2 separate regions of the Homo sapiens genome follow, and region 2 is linked to region 1. A link means that fine-mapping ties the variant in region 1 to the expression of a gene that starts in the linked region. Tissue or cell type: testis. Region 1 holds a variant in brackets; the other region holds the start of a gene. All regions are shown on one strand. Distances are between the middles of the regions.

Evidence for each region. PIP is the estimated chance that this variant, and not a neighbour inherited with it, causes the effect.
Region 2: it holds the start of GCLC-AS1, and the variant in region 1 is fine-mapped to the expression of GCLC-AS1 in testis (GTEx, PIP above 0.99).

What each region holds. Positions count from the first base shown.
Region 1 is chr6:53,502,093-53,504,592 of GRCh38, reverse strand. All of the region lies in intron 12 of GCLC (glutamate-cysteine ligase catalytic subunit), which reads left to right. All of the region lies in intron 3 of GCLC-AS1 (GCLC antisense RNA 1), which reads right to left. Among named protein-coding and RNA genes, the nearest start is that of GCLC, 42 kb to the left of the region's middle. The variant G/A (reference allele first, on the strand shown) is at 1,544.
Region 2 is chr6:53,429,988-53,432,743 of GRCh38, reverse strand. GCLC-AS1 (GCLC antisense RNA 1) reads right to left here and starts at 1,250. Exons shown (of 5, transcript NR_183318.1): 1 at 1,105-1,250.

The sequences.
Region 1 (2,500 bases):
AGACCAAAGGTCACCCACAGAACTCTGTGGGCCCACATTGCCCTCATGCCTACCTACTGGGGAGACCAAATCCATCTAAGAGAGATTCCATGTAAGCTACCAGTCTAAGCCTTTGCTTATAAATAAGAATAGATGCTTGGAAGGCAACAGAAAATTGAGAACAATTAACAGCCTTAAAGAGAAGGGCCTACTGGTCTTGCAAGGGCATACTCTGTAAAGTCAAACTTAGTTACTTCAAGGAAGTAAGCTGGGCCCAGCGCAAATCTATAATCTCTGCTCCTCAGGAGGCTGAGGCAGGAGGATTGCTTGAATCCAGGAATTCTAGTGCAGCCCCGACAACATTGCCAGATCCCATCTCTTGAAAAAAAAAAGCAACTGGAAAGAATTACTATTTTTTAAAAAATACTTTTAAACCTTTTTTAGAGACAGGGTCTCACTATGTTGCTCAGGCTGGTCTCGAACTCCTGGGCTGAAATGATCGTCCTCCTGCTGCCTCAGCCTTCCAGGTAGCTGGAATTACAGACACAAACCACCATGCTCAGCTTTGGAAAGAGTTCTTAAAGGAATTCTAATTAGTGGCCTCAGACAAATTCTAGAGAGGTTCAGTCACATCCATAAAACAAGTATTATAGATTGTGCTTATTTAATGGTGAGTATTCTCACCAGTAGAGCAGATGTTGAATATCCAAGGTAGTGATTTAAAAGACCAAATGAAGATTAATCCCAGCAGGATGGTGAAGAAATGGAAATTATGGAAATCCTGAAGCATGGAAAGCTCTGGAAAATTCAATGTTTGTGTAATAATTTAGAAGAGGAGAATAGTTTATATAGGAAAGATATACAATAATCAAAGAAATAATAGAATTTTTCCTTAATAAGTCTTCCTTAAGGATGAGACAAATATTTAACTCAAATGTAGGCATTTATTAATCTCAAAGAGAAAATTAACTGTCCGGACAGGAGAAAAAATTAGGAGACATGAAAAGGGGGGAAAATCAACTGATATTACTTTTCATTTGCAACATTAAATGCTAGATGGAAAGAAGTTTTCAGAATCTCGAGAGGTAAAGAATTAACAACCACAGAATTATCTTCTCAGCCAAATTATTCTTTAAATTTCAGGTGATTCTAACAAAACTGAATGGATCAAGTTAGGGCTAAAAGTATGCCAGAAGTCTTATCTAGTGTCTTGGTTTGTTTGGGCTGCTGTAACAAAAATACCTTACAGTGGGTGGCTTATAAACAACAGGAATGTATTGCTCACAGTTCTGGAGGCTGGGAAGTTCACGATCAAGTCACCGGCAGTTTCGGTGTGTGGTGAGAGCTTTTGCTCTCTGGTTCATACATGGTGCCTTCTTGCTGTGTTCTTACATGGTGGAAGGAGCTAACTAGCTCTTCAGATGTCTCTTCGTAATACCAGTTATGAGGGTAGGGCCTTCATGACCTCCCAAAGGAGGTCCTCCCAATTGCCTCCCAAAGGCCCTACTTTCTAATACTGTCACAATGGGCATTAGGCGTCAGTGTATGAATTTAAGGGAACACA[G/A]ACATTCAGACCATAGCACCTTGTAAGGGGATATGGAAGGAGATGAATGGTAGATACTCATTAGTGCTTGACACTTAGAGAGTTATAATTTCAAAACTACCTCTTTAAGGAAAACTATTAATAGTATAGAAACAGGATTTATTACTTTTAAACTTGCTGGCGAAAGGGTGGCAAAATGAACCACAAATACATTTCAGTGCCACAAAATTGGGTGTGGGGCCAGGGGAGTGATGAAACAATAGCCCATAGAACATAAAGTGGTGAAAATAAAATGAAAACAAATTTGAATAGACTAAACTCTATCCTATTAAACAGCTGAAACAGATAATATAAAATAGCAACACAGTTTGCATAAGATGTACGTAGAACAAGGACAGATGCCGACAAGAGCTGCATAGTGACCTTTTGGAATGATAGCAGGAATGGCAAAGCAATATCAGGCAAAATGTGAGGTAGAAATTATTAAATGGGATAGAGAAAGCAGTTTTATATATTCTTCCAAGATGATGTGAAAGCTGTGGTCCTTTTTGTACCATGAAATGTAACATGAAAAGAGTTTAGTGTGATGGGTAATACATGGCTTTGATGTGAGAACTAAATGCATAAATCCCTGGTACTATTTACTAGGCTTTTAACCTGGACAAGTGACTTATTCTCAGTGCCTCAGTTTCCCACATGTATCCCAGAGGGGAATAAGTAGGCTGTTGTAAGCCCGTGTGGGGATTAATGGAGGTAAACCACTTAACAGAGTACCTTGCATGTTACTCAGTAACTGACAGGCCATATAATCAAAGGATGGGAAAGGCCATGGGGGAATTAAAGGCATGGTTAATAAGCTTGGTTGTATGCGTATATTACGTATCTCATACCACATCTTTTTTCAAATGCCATGAGTAAGATTTACAAAAATTAAAGAAAATCTTCACTTCTCAAAAGTAGACATAATACAGCATGCGT
Region 2 (2,756 bases), 72 kb after region 1:
GCCAGCTCCAGAGAATATTGCAAAATGGGTTCTTAGTCATCAATGCCCTATTAACCTCTTGTTTGCTTCCCCTTTAGAGGCTCTTTTACTGTCCAATTGTGTATTTCATTTTTTCTTTTTCTTTTCTTTTTCCTTTTTTTTTTTTAAATGGGGCTTTGCTCTGTTGACTAGGGTGGAGCACAGTGGTGCGATCATGGTTCACAGTATCCTCGACCTCCCAGGCTCAAGCAGTCCTCCCACCTCAGCCTCCTGAGTAGCTGTGACCACAGACACAAGCCACCATGCCTGGCTAATTTATTAATGTTTTTTTGGTAGACGTGGGGTCTCACTATGTTACCCAAGCTGGTCTTGAACTCCTGGGCTCAAGAGATCCTCTCACCTCGGCTCCCCAAAGTGCTGGGAGCATAGGCATGAGCCACAGCGCCTGGCCTCAATTGTCTGTTTCTTTAGACCAGCAATGAGTTTTCCAAAGCTTTGTTTCCAAGGTAGATAGGCCTTTTCTTTGCCCACACAGAGGCAGCCGATCATTTCTAGAGAAAATAATGCAATTAGAACGGTTGGTTTATGCCATGATCTGAATGTTCGTGTCCCCCAACTTAAATTTGAATGCTGAGATCCTGACCCCCCGGGTGATAGAATTAAGAGATGGGGACTTTAGGGGGTGATTAGGTCGTAAGTGTGGAGCCCTCAAGAATGAGATTCATGCCCTTATGAAAGAGGCTCCCGCGAGTTCCCTTAACCCTCCTGCCAGGTGAAGACACAGGAAGCAGACAGCTGTCTATGAACAAGGAAGCAGGTTCTCACCAGACACCAAATCTGCTGACAGCTTGATCTTGCACTTCCAGCCTTCTGAACTGTGAGCAACAAATATTGATTGTTTACGCCATCAGTCTATGGTGTTTTGTTATAGCAGAAATGGACTTTGCTGCCTTGTATCCATCAACACCCTCTACTACAACAGGAAAATAGAAGTCATCTTTCTTTCCACCATGAAATTTAAACATATCTGCATACATGTTCATTGTCTTAGTCCATTTTGTGCTAGTATAATAGCACAGACCTATAAAGAACAGAACTTATAAAGAACAGAAATCTATTTCTTACCATTCTGAAGGCTGAGAAGTCCAAGATCAAGGCACCAGCATCTGGTGAGGGCTGCTCTTGGCTTCCACAATGGCATTTTGAACACTGTGTCATCCAAAGAAGAGAAACACTGTGTCCTCACATGGCAGAAGACAGAAGGGACAGAGGACCAAACTCCTTCATAAAGGGCTTTTATAACAACATTAATCCATTCATGAAGGTGGAGCCCTTATGACCTAAATACCCCAAAGGCCGCAACTCCCAACAGTGTTGCACTGGGATTAAGTGTCAGCATTCAAATATATTCTAAAACCCTCATTTATAAAGCCTTCTCTTTTACTTAACAAAGATAAAGGTGAAATCTTCCAGTCAATGGTGAGAAGACAGTTATTTTATAAATGATTTTGGGAAACCAGGTAGCCATCTAAAAATAAAACTAAAATTGTCTTAACCCCTCCCACTTGCACCAGGAAAATATACAATTGAATCAAAGATTTCAGAGTAAATAATGAAATTATAAATCAGTTCTAAGAAATCTCGAGAGAATTCTTCGAGAGTTGGAAAAACCTCTCTATGACACAAAACTCAAGAACCATAAACAAAAAGATTTATAAATTTGACAATACGAAAATCAACCATTTCTACAAGGCCGAAGCTACCATAAACAAATTTCAAAGACAAACAGCAAACTGGGAAAATATATATGCAAGATATATTGGAAGCAAAGGGCTACTTTTCCTTATATAAAGAAAGCATGTATAACGTGTTAAAAAAAATCAATAACTCAATTTTTTTAAAGGTACAACAATCCTCCCAATGACTCTTAACCAATAAAACATGTTTAATCTCACTCATAGCTAAAGAATGCAAATTAAAATAATACTGAGCTACCAATTTTCACTTGTGAAATTAGGAAAGGTCAAAAATTTGATAATCTTCTGTGCTGATGAGGTTGTGGGGAAAGAGGCATTTTCATATTGCTGATGGGAATGTAATAGGTACAACTTCTATGAAGAGGAATTTAGCATTATTTACCAAAATCACAACTACTCCTACCCTCTGATCCAGAAAATTCTACATCTAAAAATTTATCTTACAGATTACATGTACACACACTTCCAAAATGTATAAGGTTATTCGTTGCAGCTCAGAAATGAAAAATATTAGCAATAAACATGATCTCTCTCAATAAGAGATAAATCAACAATGGCACACCCCACAAAGAAGTAAGACCTCTGCTCCTTCTCCACACAGCCTGTAAATATCAGCTGTCCTCCACACTCAGTCCTAGACCTTCTTCCATTCCTACTCTTGGTGGTCTCATCCATTGCCAGGGCTTTAAATATCTTCACAGAAATTATCTCATTCCAGAAACCTTATAATAATCTTTTTTGTCTTCCTATCCCTCGTTCTCTTCACTAAATGCTATTAAACTACCTCAAAATTACATTTTAATAGTAAAACAGCTTTATTCATGTATAACTGAAATAAACTGTACATAATTGTAGTACATTATTTGATAAGCTTTGACACAAGTATACATTCAAAACTACCACCATAATCAAGATAATAAACATCTCCATCATCCCCGAAAGTTTCCTAATGCTCCTTTGTAATCCCTCTGGCCCACCTCTCCCTACTCCCCAAACTAGCCACTGATATGCTTTCCATCA